Linked DNA regions of Homo sapiens: regions 1, 2, 3, 5 and 6 are each reported to be linked to region 4. Evidence: microRNA targets listed by miRTarBase, many of them from high-throughput screens and not tested one by one. Region 4 holds a microRNA gene; each other region holds the end of a gene's coding sequence.
Evidence for each region. The annotated mature microRNA hsa-miR-8085 reads UGGGAGAGAGGACUGUGAGGC and lies in region 4 at 2,319-2,339, opposite strand. An mRNA with a match to its seed (bases 2 to 7 or 8) in the 3' UTR can be bound and repressed. Matches are read on the target gene's strand: a 7mer-m8 pairs with bases 2 to 8, a 7mer-A1 pairs with bases 2 to 7 and ends in A, and an 8mer does both.

Region 1 (4,087 bases), not on the chromosome of region 4:
AACAAACTTTATATTCCGTAAGTGTTTCCTTTTGTGATTACCTAGAAAGAAGGAACTATTAGGCTGGAAAACAAAACACAAGGAAGAGCTTATTATTCTCAATTATTTGAATAATTTGTGTTTGAAAAATTAACTATATTTGAAGTTTGTTAACTTATAAGGAAGAACTAGGACCTTTGAGTAGAAATGAGAAAGATGTCATTTTTAGCTTCACAGGAGGTGTATCAAACAACTAGATCTACCCACTACTGGGGTCAGCTACCTTCGAAGATAGTGTGTTTTGTTATCATGATAGATGATCAAGCAGAGGCTAAGTGGCCAGCGGACAACTCCAGAGGCAACTCTGGAGGGTGGGAGGTCCACGATCTTGGTTTACCAAATCTGGATAGTAGATTTGGTAAGGTTGATGTCAGCCAGTAAAAGTCAAAGTGAAAGCAATCAGAAGTTGTCTCCAGTATAGCCTTTGCAAAATGCTATGAAATTGTTGGCAAGGATACCTGACAAAATTATAGTAAATGTGTACATTCAGCTACCTGGACACTGTATTAGCTTGGTAATTTAATACTATGTATCTGTGGTTGTTTTCAGGTATTATTTTCCAACCTATGAAAATGACACTCTCCTGTGTACACTATCTGACAGTGAAAGTGACCTGACAGCTCAGGAACAAAATGAAAATGTTCCCATCATCAGTGAAGATACATCTAAACTGTATGCTTTGAAACAAAGCAGTATTTTGAACCAGTTGCTACTATAAGAGTACTTGAAAACCTAGAAGAAACTACCACAGAAGCAATTTTTCATGTTTTTCTCCTATGAGACAGATATGAAAGAACAATTTAAATTTGAACATCAACAAAAGATTGGTCCTTGGTGAAATAAACTTTTCAAAAATGAATGTTCTTTTCAAAAAATAAAGTAGAAAAATGCACTTACTAAGAACATGAAAAAAAATGAAGTAGGAAAATAAGATGAAGACTTTGTATTTTGGCTGTAAAGTTTTATTGTGTGATCATCTTAAATTATCTCACTTCATTAAACTCATAATTATATATAGAAGTATATGTCAATTACAAAGAAATGAAATGTTCAAATTATTTATAAACCTGATTTTTCAATCAGTAGTTTCAGTCTCCTCCCCAAGGACCTTCTTCATCCAACAAGTTGCAAAATTTGAATATCCCTTCTGTACTATATTGGGTGAGCTGTAAATGTAATGACTAAAAGAAAAGCCACAGAAGAAAGAAGAAATGGTCAAAGACGTGGATAATATGCAAATTGGCCATTATATTAGAACAATCAAGAGCTGACTGTGTTATTACCACTTTCTGCCTAGGGTGGCCAAATTCCCTAGAAATAGACATCAAGCCAGTTAACTTCACTTTTCCCTGCAATTTGTATGTCACTAACATTTAAATGCCATTTTTTAAAAACATAACCACAATACCATTATGACACCTAAAAAACATTAACATTAACTTAATATCATCTGTTTTCAGTTTTTCCCACTTGTCTCAAAATGTATGTTTACAATATTATCAGTTTCATTACTGATGAATATTATATGCCTCCTGATAAGATGTACTGAGGAGGACAGAATATCACTTTTGTAGATTTATACCAAAAATGCATAATTTGGATATAATGAAGAAACAGTCAAATCCAAGTTTGAGGCTGGGCACAGTAGCTCATATCTGTAATCCCAGCACTTTGGGAGGCCAAGGCAGAGGATCACATGAGGTCAGGAGTTCAAGATCAGCCTGGCCAACGTGGCAAAACCCCATCTCTACGAAAAATACACAGATTAGCCAGGCATGGTGGAATGCACCTATAGTCCCAGCTACTTGGGAGGCTGAAGCACAAGAATCGCTTGAATCCAGGAGGCAAAAGTTGCAGTGAGCCGAGATCACACCACTGCAGTTCAGCCTGGGCAACAGACCAAGACTCTGTCTCAAAAAAAGGAAAAAAAAAAAAAAAAATCCAAATTTAAAGGACATTCTACAAAATAATTGGCCTTTACTATTCAAAAATTTTAACATCATAAAAAACAAAGACTGAAAAACTATTTCAGATTAAAGGTGGCTAAAGATAGCGTAGCATGATCCTGGATTGGATGCTAGACCAAGAAAAAAAGTTTTTCTTTTGCTACAAAAGACATTAGCAGGACAACTGGCAAAATTTGAGTAAGATTTATAGTAAGTGTTATGGTATTGTTGTTAATTTCCAGATTTTGATAACTGTACTGTGGGATGAGAATGTCTTTGTTTTCAGGAAATATTCATACACACTGAAGTATTTAGGGGTAAAGGAGCATTTTGTTTGCAACTTACTCCCAAAAAACTAACAAGGGTATATATAGAATAATGAAGTAAACATGGCAAGATGTTAACATTTAGGGAATCTAGGTAAAAGTATGTGGAGATTCTCTGTACTATGGCAACTTTTCTGAAAGTCTGAAATTATTTCAAAATTAAAAGTTTTTTAAAATGTCTTTTTTCAGCCAGGCACGGTGGCTCACGCCTGTAATCCCAGCACTTTGGGAGGCCAAGGTGGGCAGATCACGAGGTCAGGAGTTTGAGACCAGCGTGGCCAACATGCTGAAACCCCGTGTCTACTAAAAATACAAAAATTAGCCAGGTGTGGTGGTGGGCACCTGTAATCCCAGCTACTCAGGAGGCTGAGGCAGGAGAATTGCTTGAACCTGGGAGGTGGAGTTTTGCAGTGAGTTGAGATCGCGCCACTGCACTCCAGCCTGGGTGACAGAGCAAGACTCCATCTCAAAAAAAAAAAAAAAAAAAAAAGTCTTTTTTCAGTTGTTTTGTTTAATCAGGTTCCAAGTGAGATCCATGCACTATATTTGGTTGGTGTGGTTCTTAAGGGTCTTTTAATCTATAACAATTCACAGTTTTTTTTTAATGCCACTTATTTGTTAAAGCAATTGGATTAGTTGTCTTGCTTTCTGGATTTGGATGATTGTATCTTCTTTATATTATTTAACATGTTCCATTATCATTCATTGTCTCCATCCATTTCTGCTACTATAACAGAGTACCTGAGACTGGGTAATTTATAAACAATTAGATTTTTTTCTCACAGTTCTGGAGGCTGGGAGGTCCATGATCTTAGTTTAGTGTCCAGTTCGAGAGCCCAGTCTCTATTTCCAAGATGGCACCTTGAATACTGCATCCTCCAGAGGGGACAAAGGCTGTGTCCTCACAGGACAAAAGGATGGAAGGACAAAAGGGCCTAGCTAGTTCCCTCCAGCCCTTTTGTAAGGTCATTAATCCCAGTGATGAGGCCTCTGCCCTCATGGCCTGATCACCCTTCTGAAGGCCCCACTTCTTAACACTGTTGCAGCAAGAATTAAGTTTCAACAGGAATTTTGGAGGGAACATCAAAACATTGAAATTATAGCAAACCCTTTTATAAGGTCATTAATCCCATCCATGAGGGCTGTCCTCCTGGCCTAATCACCCTTCTAAAGGCCTTTCTGACCTTTCTTTACAGTGGGTTTTTATTTTTATTTTTTACTTTTCTATTTTTGAGTTGGAGTCTCACTGTCTCCCAGGCTGGAGTGCAATGGTGCAATCTTGGCTCACTGCAACCTCCCCCTCCCGGACTCAAGCGATTCTTCCACCTCAGCCTCCTGAGTAGCTGAGACTGCAGGCACCCACCACCACGCCTGACTAATTTTCATATTTTTAGTAGAGATGGGGTTTCACCATGTTGGCCAGGCTGGTCTCAAACTCCTGACCTCAAGTGAGCCACTATGCCCAGCCCTACAGTGTGTTCTTTATGCAGCATATGTGCTACAGAATGCTGGAGTCTGAGGCTCTGGTTTTCAATTATTAATGCTAGTCTGTGTAGGTAATGCCCCAAAACTCATCTTGGAGTCGTATTGCCTGTCCAGAGACTCAAGAGTCAACCTCCTCCCACCATGCGGTCCTAACTCAACTGTATTTGTTAATTACATAGGCTCTGGCCACAGCTCTAGATTTCTAACCCTCCCACTCTGCAGACACCATGAAAGGCTTTTATTGAAAACTAAGCAAACAAAGATATAGGAGCCTGTATTATAATGAAAAAT
Region 2 (4,087 bases), not on the chromosome of region 4:
CTGCAAGTCACACCTGTGTCAAATTCCTGGGGCAGATGGAAAATACACAGCATCAGACGCTGGGAGGCGAGTCCAGGAGCAGCCAGGCCGCCCAGCCCAAGCATTGCCCAACTGTAAACGGGCGAGGTGCCCTCCCACTGATTCGAGGCGCAGCCATCACACAAGAGACAGGGCTTTGTGACACCACCCCGCACCCAACCAAGTCATTCTCATGACTGTGCTCAAAGTGTGGACACAGCTGGAGGATGGGGGCCAACAGGGTAAAAGAGTTTTAAGTTTATGGTTAAATTTTCCAGTTGTACGATGCCAATTTTCATAAAATGTATAATTTGCTGTGTTTCAGTGGAAAAAGAAAAAACCAGAGCCAAAGGTCTCTACGCAGTGTGGTGCTGCGCATCAGGCAAACAGCGAAGAATCAAAGTGGGTTCTCCCCGCTCACACCTCCCTCTCTTCCCGGAGACGCCTCCCCTCGGCCCAGCAGGCCCTTTTCTGCCACTCCCATCCGGAGTCATCCCCACGGGCGGTGGCCCCGACCATGGCCCGGGAATCTGAGCAGGTGCGTGGATGTGGGTGGTGTCTTCTGCAGGAACCCCTCCACATCCCTGCAAACACCCCAGGTGCTCAGGAAAACCGAACCTCAGAGGAACCATACCAAGAACTGGGAATGCAGAAATGGAGGGGACGCGGGCCCCCCTCAGTGAGTGAACCGCCCAGTGGGTTCTGACATTCGTCTGAACATCCTATAAACAAACGCATCCCGGGGAGGTGCTCCAGCAAAGGCAGACACAAAGGGCCATGCCCAGAATACGGAAAACAAGCCCTCAGCAGATTCACTGACACCCTGTTCACAGCAGCATTCAATTCACATTCGCAGGAAGGCAGAAGCAACTCAGTGTCCACCAACTGATGAACAGATAAACAAACCATGCCTCTTCCACACAATGGGACATTATTCCGCCTCAGAAAGGAAGTTAGTTCTGACACCTGCCACGACACCGATGAACCTAGAGGACATTGCATGAGGTGAAGTACTTCAGTCCCAAAAGGACCAATACTGTGTGACTCCATTTCTGAGGGAGCTCGGGTAGTAGAAATCAGAGAGTGGAAGCTGCTGCCTTCTACCAATGGGGAGCGAGTGCTGAATGGGGACAGAGTTTCAGTTTGGGAAGATGAGAAAGCTCTGGAGATGATGGTGGTGGTGGCACGACAATACGAATGTGCTTAATGCCACACAACAGTGCACTTAACAATGGTTAAGATGGTACGTTTAAAATTAAACATTTTTATCATAATAAAAAACTTGGAGGGGCCAGGTGTGATGGCTCATGCCTGTAATCCCAGCACTTTGGGAGGGTGATGCAGGAGGGTCACTTGAGCCCAGGAGTTTGAGAGCAGCCTGGGCAACACAGTGAGACCTCATCTCTGCTGAAAATAAAAAACTAGCTGGGCAGGCTGGCGCTCACCTGTAACCCCAGCTACTTGGGAGTCTGAGATGGGAAGATCACTTGAGCCCAGGAGGTTGAAGCTGCAGTGAGCTGTGATTGCACCAGTGTATTCCAGCCCGGATGACAGAGCGAGACCCTGTCTCCAAAAACAAAACAAAACAAAAATAAAAGAAAGCGAAGCTTCAGAAAGGAAGGCAGGAGGTGTCTAACACAGGGGACACCTGAGGCTAGCAGGCACTGGGGGCCAAGACCCACACAAGCCCACCTGAGCCTGGGAAACACAGGGACACCACACACAGAGGACACCAGGGTATGTCCCAACTGAGCGTGGCCAGCAACCAGGGACTGGGCAGTGGTGACAAATACCACACACGAGGAAGACAGGTCAAGCAGGGTGCCCGACACCACGAAATGATTGCAACCATCTCTCCAACTACAGCTTAGAAGCAGAAATAGCAAAGGAGTTTCAGCCAGATGTTTCCAGAGCCTCCTCTGACACTTTTATCAAGACAGGGCCCATCAAACCTGAGGGTTCAAGGTCAGTCGTGTCCTTGAGGGTGAAGGCACTGGAGCTAAACCAACCAGAAAGCCACAGAGACAGTCACACGGAGCCTCTTCTTGGTGACACTGGGTACTGTCATCCAGCACGGTCTAGAGATAAACGCCAAACCACTCCACTCCTGCCAACTGTAAACCTCAACAGCCATAGTTTACTTTCTATTTAATCTATCTATCTACCTATCTTCTATCTGTCTATTTAGAAACAGAGTCTCACTTTGCTGCCCAGGCTGGAGTGCAGTGGCACGATCATAGGTCACTGCAGCCTTGAACTCCTGGGCTCCAGCGATCCTCCTGCCTCAGCCTCCCGAGTAGCTGGGATTACAGGTGTGCACCATCATGTCCGGCTGATTTTCTTATTTTTTGTAGACACAGGGTCTCGCTATGTGGTCCAAACTGATCTTGAACTCCTGGGCTCAAGTGATCCTCCCTCCTCAGCCTCCTGAGTAGCTGGGTTTACAGATGTGCACCACCACGTCCTTTTTATTTTTTGTAGAGATGAGGTCCTTGCTATGTTGCCCAAGCTGGTCTTGAACTCCTGGGCTCAAGTGATCTTCCCCCCTCAGCCTCCCAAAGTGCCAGGATTGCAGGCATGAGCCACCGTGCCCAGCCTTAATAGCCATAATGTATTAATATTTATTTATTTATTTTGAGATGGAATCTCACTCTGTCACCCAGGCTAGAGTGCAATGTCGCGATCTCAGCTCACTGCAGCCTCTGCCTCCTGGGTTCAAGCAATCTTTCCATCTCAGAACTCCTGAGTAGCTGGGACTACAGGTGCACACCACCACACCCGACTCATTTTTTTTTTTTTTTTTTTTTTTTTTTTTTTTTTTTTAGTAGAGACAGGGTTTCACCATGTTGGCCAGGTCTCAAATTCCTGACCTCAAGCGATCCTTCTGTCTGGGCCTCCCAAAGTTCTGGGATTACCTGCCTGAGTCACCCGCCCGGCCTTAACAGCCATAATTTAAACTAGACAGTATGGGAACAGCTGGAGTTAGAAATCCTAGAAATCCTGCTTCTGTAACTGACCGGTTTACCTCTGACTTGACTTCAAACAGGAAGCCCTGAAGATTGACCTTTTCAAGTACAACACTTAAACAAAGAACTTTCCCTCTGGAAGGATTTGTCGGCTACCCTTCCAAAAACAGACAGGTGCGGCCTGACTTCAAGTGCAGGCCCCGCCCTCCTCCGGTGAGTGGCCCTAGCCCTGGAGGCAGCTCCATCAGCCTCAGCATCCCCTCCCGGCGCCCGCACGCTCAGAAAAACCACAGGAGCGGGCGAGCGGGCGAGCGGGCGGGCGGGTGGGCGGGCGGAGGGGAGAGGGGATATTTTACTCCAGCATTCCCTTCCACATTTCGTATTAAATACCTGAAATATATTAATCTTAAAAAACAATATCGATACAGTACTCAATGGATAGAGGCAGTGGAGTGAACAAGAAGCCCAGATTGCAAAATCGTAGGTCATAAAAAAACTGGAGTGCGCGTGCGTCAGGTTCCAGGCACGCGAGAAAAAGCAACGCGAAAGCTTTCAGTCTCGGAGGAGGTTTTCGGGCTTGGGGTAGCCGAAGAGAACAAAGTCGGCCTCGTAGAGTTTATACAGCTGCTGCCTCCAGGCCAGGGGGATCTTGGCGAACCAGTCCTCCTCCCAGCTGCTGGCGGTCCTGTTCCGGTAGCTCGGGGGGAAGCGGAGCTGCCGGTCCACCTGGAGTAGCTGCAGCAGCTGCGCGGCGTCCTCGTCCAGAGTCTCCAGCTTCCCCACGAAGTCGTAGTCGATCTGGCACGGGTGGCAGAGGCGGTACACCTGCCGCCAGTGCTCGTTGAAGGGCGCCAGCTTCTCCGTGTGCGGGTCCAGCAGGTACTGGATGAAGTTGGCGAAGGACACCTTGAGGCCAGCGCGGAAGGCCTCGCGCGCCGAGGCGGGCAGGCTGGTGTGGTTGGCGTACAGCCGCAGCATGGGCACGGCGAACTTGCGGTAGAACTCCTCGTTCTCCAGCTCGAACTTGCTGCGGAAGGCGGAGATCAGGCGCACGAAGGGGTCGCGCACGAAGAGGAACTTGGTGTACTTCTTGAGCTTGACCT
Region 3 (4,087 bases), not on the chromosome of region 4:
GCTAATTTTTTTGTATTTTTAGTAGTGTGTTAGCCAGGATGGTCTTGATCTCCTGACCTCGTGATCTGCCTGCCTCGGCCTCCCAAAGTGCTGGGATTACAGGCGTTAGCCACTGCGCCCAGCCAAATGAAGATTTTTAAACAGGGCAAGGATATGATTAGAGTTGGGGTTCAGAAGTTACTCTCAAGGCTTAAGAGTTTGGATTGAAAGATGAAGAGATAGGAAGTAGGCAAATGCTTGGGAAAGCACAGATTTCAGTTTTGGAGGTGCTGAGATCTGGGTGTCTGTCTCAGGCTGTGGACTGTGGGAGCTGTAGACTTAGGTGTCAGTGGTGCTCAAAGTTGCAAGGTTAAAGATGGTACTTAAAACTCTAACTAGGTAGCAAGAGATCGAGGCCAGAAGAAATGCATACACAAAGGCCTACGGAGATTCACCATTAGGAAGGAAAGTGGGGAGTGGAGTTGAGAGTGAGACACATGGAGCGTCACTTAAGCCCTCACTCCAGATATGGGAACAACGTGAACCAGCAGAGAAGAAAAAGCTTTACAGTTGGAGGAAATACTGTAAGTGTGTGCTCTGAGGAGGCTGCTGGAGCAAGGGAGGGTAAATGGCACCATGGAGCCATCTGGACAATCCAATTAGGAGTCTGACCACAGAGGCCTTGGTTTGAACTTAACTTACCAGAAAACTAGGAGACAACTTTCTTTCTTTCAGTTACAAATTTTTTTTTTCCTAGTAACCATATTAGAAAAGAAAAAGAGGCCAGGCCTGGTAGCTCACCTCTGTAATCCCAGTGCCTTGGGAGGCTGAGGCAGGTGGATCACCTGAGGCCAGCAGTTCGAGACCAGCCTGGCCCACATGGCAAAACTGTCTCTACTGAAAATATAAAAATTAGCCAGGCCTGGTGGTGGGCACCTGTAGTTCCAGCTACTCAGAAGGCTGAGGTAGGAGAATTTCTCAAACCACGGAGGCAGAGGTTGCAGTGAGCCAAGATCGTGCCACTGCACTCCAGCCTGGGTGACAGACCGAGACTCCATCTCAAAAAAAAAAAGGAAAAAGAAAAAGAAACTGTGGGGTGAGAATAAGGTGGGTTTGTGATCCTGAGGTTTCATGCTCGGTGCTCGGTATATTATAAGGACAGTGGAGCCAGCAACAAAAATACAGATCACAGACTAAGTCAACAGCTGCTGTTCAAGAAAAGAGACAACGTCACTATTACAGAAAGGATGACTTTTATTTCCATCCTGAATGATTCACACCATTATTTAAACATCTGAAAAATCCTGAAATAATTTAAACTGAAGGCACAGAACAAACCAAAATATTTAACTATCAGAACTAAAAATGAGAAAATCCAAATAGTTCTATAGTAACAATAAATTATGAACAAGTTTCCGTCACCAAATATCACTCTGACCAAAAATGACTGTCTTTTGTCATAAAAGCTACAGCTTAAGCTGATTCCAAGATTTCTATAAAAATGAGAGTGAAGAAATTTCTTCTTTCAAAATACTCATTATGCCACCAGGTTCAATGTAAGTATTTTGTATATAACAAAGTAGCAGTCAGGATATTTGTTGATGGATGGCTACTCCCCAAGAAATGACACATTCTTACAAACTTTAAAAAAATAGCAAAGTTGGTTACAAAATTCTATTTGGGGAGCAGGGAAAAAACTTGTTCCATGTCAATTAGAATATCAAAGCATTTCAAAATCAAACTGCTTCCAAAGCCAATCATCACACAACAGTAATATACTGTATGGGCCATTCCACTGTATCTTGTTATATGTTGATCATACAGTGTAACTAAGGGGTTGAACAAGTCAGTAGCAATGATTGTTGCTGTATCTTATTCCAAATAGATATGTTTTTTAAAAATCATTATAAAACTAACTGAAATAATCAGTGACATGCTACAGATACAATAAACCCCAGCAATACAATTGCTAAGTTTCAAAATAAAGTGGTCATGCTTCATAATATATTGTACTGTAGTATTCTGAAATACATTCTCTGATTATCAATACCATTTATTACAGAGGTCACTTGTAAATTTGCTCAGATTCTGAACTAGGTTTCTAAATGAAATTTTTTTCAAGTATGTATAATATTAATAAGGTAAAGATATTTTTATCTTATTCACTTATTTATGTGTTCAGAGGATAAGTATGTTGAATAAAGGACAAAAAATGGGCTAGTCATAATTTTCAAAAACATTTCAAAAAATATGAAATAGTCTAGTGACTGAGAGCTGACTGAAAGATACATCTAAAACCTACATTTCCAACAAAACAGAACTTTTCTGTCTCCTACTTGAAACAACTAATCTCATAAGAAATAATGGGAAAAATAATTGTTTCTAAAATACACAAGAAATACTCCTACCTGAACAAAATAAAAAGGTCTCCCTTTCTCCTACTTAGCTGTGATATATAGGTATTTAATAATATGGTTTTATCTTTATCATTTCGTTTAATCGCATAAATCACAAAAACATTTCTAGCCAAGATTACTGCTAAGAATAACACAACTCTAGAAATAATTTTTTAGCAAAAACTACTTCAAAATTTCCCTACATAGCAAAACATTCCTCTGGAAATAGATTTTTAATGCTTTTGGGCTGTTCAAGTAAGTGCAGCTTTACCATCTCTAACATTAAGTTATAATTATCATCCAAATTCCTTTGTAACTGGATAACATTATCTTTTATCCTCTACTATTCTAATAATAGTATATTAAGAAATTTCTTTAGTGTTGTCAGACTTATTTCTTCATCTTCTATGAATATTGAGAGATTACAGTAGAAATAAACCAGAAAATCAGTTTATAAACAGTATGAAGTTTTGAAATGTTGGCACCAATAAAAAATGGGAACGGCCGGGTGCGGCAGCTCACACCTGTAATCCCAGCACTTTGGGAGGCTGAGGCGGGCAGATCACAAGGTCAGGAGATCGAGACCATCCTGGCTAACACGGTGAAACCCCGTCTCTACTAAAAGTACAAAAAATTAGCTGGGCATGGTGGCACACGCCTGTAGTCCCAGCTACTCGGGAGGCTGAGGTGGGAGAATGGCGTGAACCCAGGAGGCGGAGCTTGCAGTGAGCTGAGATTGTGCCACTGCACTCCAGCCTGGGTGAGAGTGAGACTGTGGTTCAAAAAAAAATGGGGAACAGTTATCACCAAAATTTAAAGTATATTCATTCATGGTATTGGTTATGACAGTGGCAGTACACGCTGTTGTTACTGGCTTTGCTGACATCAGGCCTGAGGGATACAGAACTCGTTCTATGATTCAGTTACTGAAAACAAAGACCCACCAGAAGGTCTTTACTCCATCTGGGGCACAGTTTGGGTGAGCTTTGCTCATTACCATAGGTAACATTTTAACAACTAAGTCTGAATTCTGAAAATATAAACTCACAAAGGTTAGTGGAAGACTGTTTCCAAGCTAAAAGAAATGTAACTAACTTAGGAAACCATTTAAATAAACATAAACGGACAATCTTAGTGGGTTTTGGCCCTGTGTATACCAGCAGTGTCAGCAGCTCCTAAACCACAAACACAATGAAACCAAAGGGTTTTCTTTCAAAAATCTAAAAAAGGAAGATGCAAGATTTGAAACCAATTTCCAAAATCTATACAAGGCTGCCAGGCCAACAAATAACGGTCAGAGTGACTTTGTTCCTCTGCTCCTTCAACATGGGAACTAGTGCAGAGTGGCTCATGCCCACGGTTGACAGCCCATTTACGGCCACAATCATGTCACCACACCTGGACAAAGAGAGACAGATACAGAATGTTACTATTTTCATGGTATTAAAAATATCCCAATTGAGATTTATGTAGCATGAAAAATGCGGTTTCACTTACCACTGAACTGTCAATGGTTAGGGTGTATAATCTACTTTGTCTGGGACAGCCCTTAAGCCTATGCTGGCTTTCCCTTGCCAATCAAGGAAACCCCTGTGCCGATGACTCCATAACCAGTAGGTGAATGTCAAGGACAAGCAGAGTAATTTTCACACTAATTTAAGCAAAATATAGAGTAAATATGCTCTCTCTTTAAAAAAATACCAAGTCATGCA
Region 4 (4,074 bases):
TAGCCAGGCATGGTGGTGGGTGCCTGTAATCCCAGCTACTCTGGAGGCTGGGGCAGGAGAATCTCTTGAACCCAGGAGGCGGAGGTTGCAGTGAGCCGAGATCACGCCATTGCACTCCAGCCTGGGTGACAGAGTGAGACTCCATCCCCCCCCAAAAAAACAACAACAAAACCACAGATGTGGTCCATTAGAGGGGCCCCATGGAACCACTAAGTAAAACTGTCTCACGCCATGTGAGGCAGTCACAGGGCAACAATCACAGCATCACCCCAGATCTCAATGTTAGGAACACTCCCAAGCACCACGCACTCGGACAGCCAGAGACGATTGGGGCTGAAGTCAGCTGTGGGTTATCACCAGGACCCCCACACTACAGAAACACACATGCCCAGGGTCACTACGGAATCCAACAGGGTGCCCTGGAAAGATATCACACACCGGCCAGGTGCAGTGGCTCATGCCTGTAATCCCAGCACTTTGGGAGGCCGACACAGGAGGATCATGAGGTCAGGAGTTCAAGACCAGCCTGACCAACATGGTGAAACCCCGTCTCTACTAAAATTACAAAAATTAGCCAGGTGTGGTGGTGCACACCTGTAATCCCAGCTACTCGGGAGGCTGAGGCAGGAGAATCGCTTGAACCGGGGAGGCGGAGGTTGCAGTGAGCCGAGATCGTGCCACTGCACTCCAGCTTGGGCGACAGAGCAAGACTCTGTCTTGAAAAAAAAAAAAAAAAGATATCACACACCACGTCCTCCTTAGAAACAATGGTACAGTGACAATGATGGCAACATTCACAACCAAACACACCAGAAGTCCCAGAGTGACACACAGGAGATTGTCTGTCTGAGACTCACAACATCACTCTGGGAGTCAACTGGATTCAGTGCACGGGTGTGCACACACACGAAGGCACTTCCGCCAGGTCCATCTCATGAAAGAGGCCCATGCACCCAAGGGATATGGTACAAAAATAGTTTATTACAAAAGAAATCCAACCAAAATGCTTAATAATTTACATCGTGATCCGTGCCCGTTACGGCCCACCTCTCCCCTCCTCAGTTATCTGGTAGAGAGTGGAGGGGAGTGGCTGTTCCCTGGGTCCACCAGCTCTGGGAGGGGACATGGAAATGGAAGATGTGGGTGGCATTCCGGACAGGGACTGGTGCCTGAGAATGCTGGGGTCAGAGTCCTGGGAGGGAGCGAGATGGGGGAACATCTGTGCTCAGAAGAGGGGGTGTATGGGTAGGTGCATGTGCTTCTGTGCAAATCCTGGTCCCGAAGATGGGGGGGGGGGGCAGAGTGAGATCTTCACAGTTTCCAGAAGGGTTGACCCCACAGGGCAGGGGGGCCCCTCCTCATGAGTCCAAGATCTGCCCCCCCATCCCCCTCAGCTGCCTCCTGGAGCTGGGGAGGGGGGCACCGGCCGGCCAGGGCCTCGGAGGACCCCAGCAAAGGGCAGGAAGGCGGGTGGAGATGGGGAAGGAAGGAAGAAATTGGGAGGAGCCATGGGGAATCCAGGGGGGTCCCTGGGGGGAGACTGGGAGGGTGAGGAGGATGGTGATGCGGAGAGAAGACCTGAGGAAGGAAGAGAGACAGAGGGGTGGGTGGTGAGAGGCTAGACCCAGAGAGCAGGGGCTGGGGCCTGAGATCTGGGTCTGAGGGAGGAGGGGCTGGGGGTCTGGACTCGGGTCTGAGGGAGGAGGGGCTGGGGATTTAAACTCCCGGGTCTGAGGAAAGAGGCATCTGGGGACCTAGACTCCTGGGTCTGAAGGAAGAGGGGCCGGGGGTCAGAAGGAGGAGGGGCTGGGGGTGTGAGGGAGGAGGGGCTGAGGTCTGAGGGAGGAGGGTCTGGAAATCTGGACTCCTGGGTCTGAGGGAGGAGGGGCTGAGGTTTGAGATAAGAGGGGCTGGGGGTATGAGGGAGGAGGGGCTGAGGTCTGAGGGAGGAGGGGCTGGGGGGTCTGAAGGAGGAGGGGCTGGGGTCTGAGGGAGGAGGGGCCAGGGGTCTGAGGGAGGAGGGGCTATGGGTTGGGATTCCTGGGTCAGAGGGAGGAGGCTAGGGGCCTGGACTCCTGGATCTGAGGGAGGAGGGGCTGTGGGTTGGGATTCCTGGGTCTGAGGGAGGAGGCGCCAGGGCTGGAGGTTGGGAACGGTTTCTCACCATTGGAGCTGAGGCGGCTGCTGCTCTCGGGGGAGGTGTTGGCGCTCCGGTCAGGGGAGGGGTCTGGCTGGGAGGTGGAAGCAGGCCGGGTGGCCTTCCCCCTCAGGATGTCGATGACCTGTAGGAAGATGGGCGTGACCATAGAGCCACCCATGCCTCACAGTCCTCTCTCCCATCCCTCCTAGCTCACTGGATCCAGGTGGTGGCCTCTCCACTTCTCAGTATGAAAAGATGGGCAAGGCACTTTTTTTCTTGGTGCCAGTCTCTCCTCATTTCTGGAACTCACACCCGCGCTTTCAGAGGCTCACCCACTCCCCTCCACGCAACGGCACAGACACCCTCACTCCTCTGCGCTCTGGCACACTCGCCTGCAACCAGCCCGCGGACACACGTGTGCAAGGGGCATGTCCACAGCTGCCCCGGCTCACCCTGCGGCTGCGCGCCACCATGAGCGGCGTGTCGTTGTGGCAGTTCTTGAGGCTGCTGTCAGCGCCGCTGCGGACCAGCGTGCGCACCAGCGGGAGGAGCCCGCGGCCGGACGCTGAGTGCAGGGCGGAGCTGCCGGAGTACATTTGCGCGTTCACGTTGGCGCCGTGCTGCGGGACGGGAGGGCCGGGTCAGGAGGGCGCGCGGGCCACCCGGGGTAAGGGAACAGAGGCTGGAGGCCCGGGTGGGTGGCCGGCACGTGGGGCGGCACCGGATCGGGGTGGGGTCACAGGAAGGTAGGAGCGAGAGCCAAGGGCAGGCCAAGCGGGACTGCGTTGGCGGCGATGAATTAACCGGAGCTGGACACCGAGGCCCGCGCCCCAAGGAGTCGGGGGAGCTGGAGGGGGGAAGGACAATGCGTGGACAGGGCCTAGCTGGAAGGCGGGGTCAGCCAGGCCATCGCAGGGCGGGGCCTAGGCCGTTGAGGTGGCAGAGGAGGAATGGGACAAGTTCGTAGCCAGGGGCGTGGAGCCCGAGGGTCGAGAAAACTAGGCCTTAAAGGATCAGAGCTGGACGCGGAGCAGGAGCCGGAGCCAGAAGTGGAAGGCGGGGTCAGAGCTAGGGGCTGAGGCCAGAGCCGGGTTGGGGTCAGAGGATAGGGTGGGCGCGAGGCTCAGGGGGGCTGTACGCACCTGCAGCAGCAGCTGCACCATGCTAAGGCTGTTGTTTTCCACGGCGTGGATGAGCGGGGAGCGGCCGCTCTTAATGTCCTGCGGCGGGGAGGGAAGGTCTTAGTTTCTCCAAGCTCTGCTCCAGCAGCCGGCGACCCGCATCCCGTCCACATCCCATTCGCGGGGTCCAGCCTCTCTCTTGGGTCTGATACTCCAAGCCCCACCCCACCCGGGTGCTCTCCCACGCCAGCCCCACACTGGCCCCGCCCCCGCCAAGACCCCGCCCCTGCTAAGGCCCCGCTCCCTCCCAGCTCCTAGTGCACGCTCACCACTGCGTCGATGTCGGCACCGCGCTCTAGCAAGAGCTGCACGGTTTCTTGGCACTCGGTGTTCACTGCCACGTGCAGGGCGGTGAGCCCTGAGGGAGAGGAGGGCTCGGTGAAACCTAGGCCCGGGCTTTGCGGCCGCTGATGGACTCCAGGTCCGCTGGACAGCCCAGCGGTGCCCCGCGGTAAATGCTTACCGTCATAATTGCGGGCCTCCAGGTCCAACGTGCCCGGAGCTGCGCTGTCCAGCAGGGCTCGCAGGCAGGTCGGGCTGCGGTGCTCGCACGCCAGGTGAGCGGCCGTCTGGCCATGGCGGTCCAGCGCCATGGGGCTGGCACCAGCTGTCACCAGGAGCCGGACCACAGACGGTAATGTGGTGATCACAGCCAGGTGGAGCGGTGTCTGGGGAACAGTGACTGTGAGGGACCTGTGTCCAGCCCTGCTCTCTAGTCCTGCCTCCCCCAGGTTTTCTGAACCCTTATTCCTC
Region 5 (4,087 bases), not on the chromosome of region 4:
GCAGGTGGCTCTCTCTGCTTAGTCTCCTCTTGTTTCCTGCTCTCCCAGGGCCCCTCGCTGCTGCAGGAGCAGTGAGCTCAGTGCCAGAACCCTGCAGGTGCAATGCACCCGGCCTCCCAGCAGGGCTCAGCTGACACCACCCACCAGCTGACCCCGCAGCTTGGCCCGGGATCCCCAGGAGCAGGGCAACCCCACCAGAGGGGTGGGAAACTTCCGGCAGCAAATGACCATGATGGTTGTGAGGGTCAACCTTGCCGGGGTACTGCTCTCAGTCACTCAATCAAATCTTAACAGAGGTGTTGTGCCGAAGGTCTGTCGTAGGTGCTTTCAGGAAGAGCATCCTTGGGAACCTGGGTGGCCTGGTTGAGTCCCTTGAAAGGCCATAAAAGCAGAGCTAAGGCTTCCCAGATGCAGACGAAATAACACCCTCACGTGCCTGTTTCAGCCCCTTCCCCAAGGTTCTGGCCTGCCCTGTAGATTTTGGACTGGCTCAGCAGCCCGTACGTTGAGTAAAACAATTCCTTGCAATGAATTTCCTGTCTCCTGTCAGTCCTGTTTCTCATTGAACACTGATGGGTAGGGGCTGATCCCTAACCCAGGCCATCTCTTTTTTCCCCTCAGAATCCAGTGCCCCCCCAAAGGCAGAGGAGGCTGACGTCCCGCAGCCCCTCAGAATCCAGTGTCCCCACAAAGGCAGGGGAGGCTGACCTCTCACAGCCCCTCGAAATCCAGAGTCCCCCCAAAGTCAGGGGAGGCTGACCTCCCGCAGCCCCTCGGAATCCAGTGTCCCCACAAAGTCAGGGGAGGCTGACGTCCCGCAGCCCCTCGGAATCCAGTGTCCCCACAAAGGCAGGGGAGGCTGACGTCCCGCAGCCCCTCGGAATCCAGTGTCCCCACAAAGGCAGGGGAGGCTGACGTCCCGCAGCCCCTCGGAATCCAGTGTCCCCACAAAGGCAGGGGAGGCTGACCTCCCGCAGCCCCTCGGAATCCAGTGTCCTCACAAAGGTGGGGGAGGCTGATGTCCCACAACCCCTAGGAATCGTGTCTCCACAAAGGCAGGGGAGCCTGACCTCCCACAGCCCCTCGGAATCCAGTGCCCCCATAAAGGCAGGGGAGGCTGACCTCCCACAGCCTCTTGGAATCCAGTGTCCCCAAAAAGGCAGTGGAGGCTGACCTCCCGCAGCCCCTCGGAATCCAGTGTCCCCACAAAGGCGGGGGAGGCTGATGTCCCGCAGGGCATCAAGTTACCCTTGTTTCCAAGTTCTTCAGCACAGATGCTCTGAGGATAGATGCCCTGCTTTGCAGATGAGGAAACTGAGGCTCAGAGAGACCAAGTTCATGATCTGGCAACCAGGAATGGCCAGGGTCCCCTCCCAGCTGGGGTCTGCACTGACTAGGTCCACAGGGCTCCGGAGCCTGAGATGGCTGTGTGGGCCAAGCCCTAGTTGTAATCCCCCCATGCACCCAGCTGTACACCCCACGTGCCAGTAGGACTTACAGAGGGGCAGGCATGAGCTCAGCATGAACAGGGCTGCCCCAGTCAGCAGTCACCCTCACTGATGGCCACCTCGGGCCTGGAGGCAGGGCTGAGCTAGGCCTAGTGGGCTGCAGTGGGGCTGTAGTGGGGCTGCAGTGTGGATCCCTGAGGGTGCTTCCCCCTGAGGATCCAGGACCCTGATGGAGGCTGCCCTGTTGGTGCTCCCCCGAGCCCCCGGAGACCTCTCACTACACCCATGGGGTCTCCAGGGTGACCCTCTGGGCCGGGGGACCTGTGTCTGCAGCTCCACCCCTGCCCAGCCCAAGCACACAGAAGAAACAACATGAACACTCCAGGAAGTTTCAGTGTTTTATTAACAAAATCTTACAAAAAGAGTCTGTCTCTGGGGTAAGGTGCACAGGGCCTGGACCGACATTTAAGGCCTGGTCTGTGTGGGGCAAGGGGCAGGGGTTGGCCACAGCCTCATGAGGTTTCCAGGGTCTTCACAGGCTCCAGGGCTTCCCCAAAGCCTGTGCCAGCCTTGAGGATTGGTTATGGCTTATGTGCAAAAATAAAATCTGTGGGGCTGGCAGGGTGTGGGCTGAAGACTTGTCAGAGTGGTCTGCAGGGCTGGTCCCCCAGTGGACAAGGCAGAACGATGAACCCTGAGCCAGCACCTGCTTAGGCTGCAGACGCTAGTGGCCCACCAGCACCAGGGTTCTGGTGTCGGGGCAGGGCAGAATGCCTGGAAGCGCCCCAGGAGCCATGGCTTCTGGGATGTCCTTCCTGCAGCTGAGCTCAGGGCTGCTGGGCAGGGGTAGGAGCTGTGGCCCCAGCCTTGGGGCTCATGAAAGCCTCTGGCAGAGAGGATGGCCTGGCAGCGGGCGGGGTTTCCCTGCTGGGAGGGAGGCAGGGCCCGACTCCTGCTGCAGTGGCTCTGGGGACGGGCAGCTGGCGGCCAGCGGGGCGGGCTTAGTGGCAGGCCCTGGTCCTCGCGCTGGCGCTCAGGGCTAAGCTGGGGCTCCTGCCCTCTGCTGCAGCCGACTCCTCTCTGTAGCCCCCCTCTGGGCTGTCCTGGGACTTCGCCTCCCACGCAGGCAGCCTGCAAGGTGAGGGGTGGGTGGTGCCCAGCACAGCAGCAAAGACTTTGTGGGAACCTTGAGACCTGAAAGAACAGGAGAGTGGGCAGTGAAGGACCACGCAGGACAGTAGCCAGGGCTCCATGGGGAGGGGCTGGGGCCGGTGGATGGCGCTGGTCTTCCAAGGCAGAGGCCCCCCGACCCCGTCAGAGCCTCCCAGCGAGCCCGAACACTGGGGAGTGGCCTGGGCCGCAGGGTGTCTGGGGTCTGGGGAGGAGCTCATTTGGCCGGGACAGCTGATGGTGGGGTCTGGGTGGAAGGGTGGTGCTCCGTTACCTGTTGTCACTCTCCTGGCTCTGATGGTGCCAGCTGCTGCCTCAGCCGGATTTGAGGACTCAGCCCCTCTGGGACCCTCCGCCTGCCATGGGTGAGTCATGAGCTGAGCTCTGATTCTTCTCCAGGCGGGCGTGAATCACTGGAGCTGGGGGAGAGAAAGCGCGGGTCCATGTGAGAGCTGGCTCAGCAAACTGCCCCTGCCTCCCACCCGGCCCACTCTCCCCAATGCCCCCTTCCATGATGCCAGCCCCACCCCATCCCTTTGGCTAACTTGCTGGGGGCCCAAGCCTCAGTGGGCTCTCCTAGAAAACAGCCTCCGGATCCCGCCAGCTCTCAGATGCCCCACAGCCGGTACTGCCTTGGGGCAGGGGCTCACCTGAGGGGCCAGGAAGCACCGGGACATCAGGTCTGCTCTGCTGCGTGTGCGACTTCTACTCTCCCCTGGGAGGAGGGGGCCGCGCTGCCCGAGGCTGGCCAGCTGCCCTGGGAGGCAGGGAGGGCGTCAGCTGGCTCTGCGGATGCCGGGAGAGGGCGGCGGCGCCGGAAGTCGAGGCTCCCTCAGCATTGGCTCTGCCCTAGCTTCTGCTCTGGGTGTCCCATGAGCTTGGTGGCCGCTGGCCCCTGCCATCCGGACACTTGGTTTTCTGGATGTCCAGAGGGCCTGGGTGTTGTAGCAGAATGAGGAAGCTGGGGTGTTCTGTGATGGCCTGAGAGTGTGGAGGGTGGGGTCCAGGCCGGAAAGACAGACGGAGGGAGGGTGATGGGTGGAGCCCTGCAGGGGGGAGGGCTCTTTGCCGCTGGGTGCGGTGCTCACATCTGGATGACACGAGTGTGTGCGAGTCCGCCCGGAGCTCGAGGGGGCACCCAGCTGGACCAGGGCTTCCCCTGCAGGAGTCAGCCCCAGCTCAAAAGTCCTGGTGGGCAAAGCCACAGGCTGGATGTAGTGGGCAGGCTGGGGGCTCCGGGATGCCCTCTACTCGGGCTGGGTCCGGTCACTGGCCACGGACTCGCTGTTGGGGGCGGGCGTGAGGGTCTCCGCCTCATCCTCCACCGGGAGGTGGGGGCCGGCCGGCTCGGCCGCCTGCTCCAGGTCATCCTGCACCTCCATGCCCCTCTGGATGAGCTGCTCCAGGGTCTTGGGCAGGGGGTGGCGCAGGAAACGCTTGAGCTTGGGCTGCAGGGTGCCCACCACGTA
Region 6 (4,080 bases), not on the chromosome of region 4:
GTGCTCACTCGGTGGTCTCTGGTGATTGCTGGCACCTCCTAGGACTTCAGCTTTGCAGTTCAAGTAGAGAAAGAAAAAGAGAATCTGCTTTTTGGTATCTCCAACAAAAGTTCTGGAATAAGAGTTGCACTGGTACTAATTGTTCTGATTTGAACTGTGCATCTACTTTAAAATTAATCACTTGCTGGTGGAGGAGCAAGGGAGAGTGTGTGTCAATATGCTGATTGGTGTTAGTGATTCTCACAACTACAGGGCTGGTTGGGAAGATTATTGGTTGGCAGGGGGAACTAGGAATTGGATGCTGGAGGAGGGGCTACCAAATGTCTGCAGGAGCCACTAAACACTCTGGAGTCTAAGAATATGAAGAACAGGAGGATATTTCCTTATAGTGCCCAAATAAAGCCAGCCAGAGGGTAACACCCCTATATTCACCTTTGAACTTCTATCTTTCTCAACAGATCTGGCAGTTCAGCAGCCTCTTCTCCAAAATCAAGAGCTGGGAGTTTAATGAAGTCACCTCCATGTCTGAGCACCTGAAGTCCTGTCCTTTCAACATTGTAGAGCACAAAACTGACCCGATTCTTTTGACTAGCATGTGTCAGCCCCGTGAGCAGGCCCGAGAGAGCTTAGTCTCCACCTTTAGAATCAGACCACGAGGAAGATACGTCTCCTAAAAATTCAGATGCCACTCGATGCACCCTTCTTGGATTTCTTCTCGGAGTTCCTGAAGTAGGACAGAGTGTGTGGTTTTGAGGACTCCCTTCTGTAAACTGCCTATTTGCTTATCGGGGTGTATTGGAACACGCAATGTCCTTCGAAACCTCAACACGAGGCCTAAGAATTTCCTAAGCCATGTCTTGTACCATAGTGCCACATTGATGACTTGTTTCCTTTTTTCTTTTCTTTTCTTTTCTTTTTTCTTTCTTTCTAAAATAGATTGGTCTGAGAAGAAAATAAGTAATTTGAGGCCATTTGGAAGATGGGCCCAATTTCTTAAGTGATGAGAGAGCACGAAATTCCATAACCAGTACAGGCCTGTGCTTTTACATGGGCTTTTTAGTTCACAAAGCACTTTCAAATTTATGGGACAGGAAATGCAGGATGGGACTCCCCAGGGAACGCAGGGTGAAGGGAACAAAGCTGGAGGCTCTGGAGCTGGGTCTGTTTTGACGGTCAAGTCCAGGGCTCATTTTGGTTATTCTACTGCCTCTAGGCCAGGGTAGTCCTAACACAGCCTGACATAGGAGAGCCCCTGGCTGAGCATGGCAGCCTTGAAGACACCACAGGCCAAAACATGAGGGGCAGAAATGGGATCACAGAGTCTGTTGCTAGAATCTTGGCAACATACAGCAGGAAAGCCTTGATAAATCGGGAGTCCAAAGGAGACACCATATTTATGGAGAACATTAGGACAAAAAGTCACCAACTTACTTTGTAACATTTTAATAATGACTTAAGGGTCAAGATTTTTTTCTTCTGAAAATTATGTTCTGAGTTAGGCAGAACATAGCCATGGCCCTGGGCCACCCTGTGCTATCTGAAATGACCTCAATACACTAATGCCAACCTCAGCGTCATGCCAGAATGCACAGGGCAGCCCAGGGAGATCACACCTTTGGCAAAGTCCAGACAAGGCCCACTGCAGTTCCTATGGCGCCAGTCACCAGCTCCTAGACAGCACTTGGGTACCCCATTGGGGTCTTGGAGAGGAAGACATGTGAACATAACGGCTCCCTGAAATTGCTCCTACCCATCCATATTTCTGGTCATGCTTTCAGTCTGACAAAAATGGATGATACTGCTGTTTTTGGTAACAAACAGTGAATATTCATAAGAACAAAAGTAAAAGAAAAAAAGACACAGTAGAAACTGGCATCCCCTAAAGCAGGGCTTCTTAGCCTTGGAACTATTGACATTTTTAAATGGATAATTCTTTTTTTTTTTTTCTAGGTGGGGAGGGGATGGAGTTCACTCTTGTTGCCCAGGCTGGAGCGCAATGACATGATCTCGGCTCACCGCAACCTCCGCCTCCTGGGTTCAAGCGATTCTCCTGCCTCAGCCTCCCGAGTAGCTGGGATTACTCGCCTGGCTAATTTTGTATTTTTAGTAGAGACGGGCTTTCTCCATGTTGTTCAGGCTGGTCTCAAACTCCCGACCTCAGGTGACTCGCCCGCCTTGGCCTTCCAAAGTGCTGGGTTTACAGGTGTGAGCCACTGCGCCCTGCCTGAACTGGATAATTCTTTGTTGCAAGGGACTGTTCTGTGTACTACAGGATACTTGGCAGCATCCTTGGCCTATCCATTAAATGTCAGTAGCACCCCCACAGTGGCAACAATCAAAAATGTCACCAGACATTGCTAAATATTGGGGAGCAAAATGGCTCCCCGTTGAAAATCCCTAAAGGATGTCATACTAGTGACAATAAGTTAGGATATGCTTATTTTTTAGTACAGCAAAATCTTATCGCACATAGCTATCCACAATAGTTATGATTTAATGCAGCTCTTTATTTATGAAATAGGTTTTAGACATGTGGTGATTTTAAGTTGGGAACCAGAAGGAAATGATTCGTTTGGTATGGCTTCATGTCCTTCAGCCACCCCCAAGAATGTATCCTTTCAGCTCTCTTTGGTTATACCTGAAGCCAGGAGCGTTGAGTTATTAGCCTTGTGTTTATATTCCTCTCACTGTAATTGGTGTCATTTTCCCAGCAGTCCTAGCAGTCCTCAAGCAAGTGGGAAATCGGAAAAGAAAAGGACAGGCATTGTAGGGAAGCAGAGGATAAAGAATTTAGCCAACAAAAGAAACAATCTAGTCAATCTGGGTGCTTTTATTTCCTGGGTTCTCTCTAAACATGGCTCAGAGCTGGTGTAGATGAAGTAGGTGAAACCTCTGAAAAGAGTCTAGAAGGCAGTAGAGCAAGTCCCAGACCAGAAACATGCTCATCTTTTCATCGTAATGTGCCACTCGGTACTATTTGGTAATGTCACTCTATTTTTCCTAATCCCATCCTTTGGTTTGTATTTCATATTTGTATATAAGGCACCATTTTCTAAAAATATGACTAGGGTGTGACCTAAGGTTTTATTCTGTGAAGATGAGTAACTGGAAAGAAGCTAACACTGCAGTGGGAAGGAAGGAAGAGAGTTGTCCAGGTGGTAGTTCGACGTGTTTTGAATCTAGTCCTTCCTACATGGAGGATAAAAGCTCCTAAAGTCCACTCTGGGTTTGTGATTTTAATAGAAATAGAAAGGGAAACTATAGACCAATGGAGATGAAAATCAGGGGCTATCGACAGATGGAGGAGAAATAAGGTGCTACATAGAGAAAGGAAGAGGGCAGAAGGCTTTCCCTTCCCAAACTGGGTGAGCTGGGGAAGCCTTGGTTCAGGAGAGTGGCACTGCCCACAACTGCTTTGTGGGTTGTGCACTTCCAGCCGCACTCTCCCCCTCCAGTTGCTGCCTTCAGAGCCGTACTGAAGCACGAGCTTCAATAAGACAAGCACACTTCATAGTGAGAGGGCAGCGGTACCAAAGCCTTTCAGAGAGACTATGGATTAGACAGAAATGATTTGTGAGAGGAAGCTGGAGTGAACAGCATGAACAGCGAGTGTTACCTGACAGAGGCAAGACAGCTAGAAGTGGCTTCAGATTTAGAAACAGCTGAGGGGAGCAAAGACGGACTGTGTACACAGGGAGGGAGGATGTCTATGGGCAGAGCCCTTGGTGAGTATCATCACCAAGAAAGGCAGTCCAGAGTAGAGATCAGCCGAATATGGAGGCTGAGGTCTGTAGAACTGGGCCAGAGAGGACCTTACTGCCTTAGTAGCATAAGGGTCTGGAAAAGAAGTTTCTATCTCACAACAAAGGAAAAAGTGAAAAGCAAGGTGGAACTTGAAGATACGTCACGAAAATCACTATAAAAGTCTGATTTATGTGTGATGTCAAATCAAACTGAAATGAAGAATGAGATTGAGTATATCTGTGGTGACTGACCTCTGTATACTAGAAACCTCAACATCTCTAGAAGAGGAAATAAAAGCTGCTTTGCACTCTGAAAGGCTAATTGGGTGAATCTTAT

Region 1: the mRNA of ZNF277 is a reported target of hsa-miR-8085. The part of its 3' UTR that is shown has no 7-base or 8-base seed match.
Region 2: the mRNA of CHST12 is a reported target of hsa-miR-8085. Seed matches in the 3' UTR shown: 7mer-m8 at 3,322-3,328.
Region 3: miRTarBase lists LNX2 as a target of hsa-miR-8085. Seed matches in the 3' UTR shown: 7mer-A1 at 3,064-3,070.
Region 5: the mRNA of ARC is a reported target of hsa-miR-8085. Seed matches in the 3' UTR shown: 7mer-m8 at 3,416-3,422.
Region 6: the mRNA of FBXO40 is a reported target of hsa-miR-8085. Seed matches in the 3' UTR shown: 7mer-m8 at 3,442-3,448.

Annotation. Positions count from the first base shown.
Region 1 is chr7:112,341,973-112,346,059 of GRCh38, forward strand. ZNF277 (zinc finger protein 277) reads left to right here. Exons shown (of 12, transcript NM_021994.3): 12 at 589-1,962. The coding sequence ends at 757. The region is part of intron 1 of ZNF277-AS1 (ZNF277 antisense RNA 1); the gene reads right to left. Among named protein-coding and RNA genes, the nearest start is that of ZNF277-AS1, 6.5 kb to the right of the region's middle.
Region 2 is chr7:2,433,334-2,437,420 of GRCh38, reverse strand. CHST12 (carbohydrate sulfotransferase 12) reads right to left here. Exons shown (of 2, transcript NM_018641.5): 2 at 1-4,087. The coding sequence ends at 3,537. Among named protein-coding and RNA genes, the nearest start is that of CHST12, 32 kb to the right of the region's middle. RefSeq lists an enhancer at 3,502-4,087.
Region 3 is chr13:27,544,698-27,548,784 of GRCh38, forward strand. It overlaps LNX2 (ligand of numb-protein X 2), which reads right to left. Exons shown (of 10, transcript NM_153371.4): 10 at 1,216-3,773. The coding sequence ends at 3,638. Among named protein-coding and RNA genes, the nearest start is that of LNX2, 74 kb to the right of the region's middle.
Region 4 is chr19:44,756,932-44,761,005 of GRCh38, reverse strand. It overlaps MIR8085 (microRNA 8085), which reads right to left and starts at 2,349; the gene lies at 2,285-2,349. It overlaps BCL3 (BCL3 transcription coactivator), which reads right to left. Exons shown (of 9, transcript NM_005178.5): 4 at 3,785-3,989; 5 at 3,591-3,679; 6 at 3,283-3,360; 7 at 2,593-2,760; 8 at 2,165-2,282; 9 at 962-1,578. The coding sequence ends at 1,391. RefSeq lists enhancers at 1,763-2,412, 3,716-4,074.
Region 5 is chr8:142,609,216-142,613,302 of GRCh38, forward strand. It overlaps ARC (activity regulated cytoskeleton associated protein), which reads right to left. Exons shown (of 3, transcript NM_015193.5): 1 at 3,269-4,087; 2 at 2,893-3,037; 3 at 1,834-2,642. The coding sequence ends at 3,866. Among named protein-coding and RNA genes, the nearest start is that of ARC, 3.2 kb to the right of the region's middle.
Region 6 is chr3:121,626,237-121,630,316 of GRCh38, forward strand. FBXO40 (F-box protein 40) reads left to right here. Exons shown (of 4, transcript NM_016298.4): 4 at 459-4,059. The coding sequence ends at 674. Among named protein-coding and RNA genes, the nearest start is that of HCLS1, 33 kb to the right of the region's middle.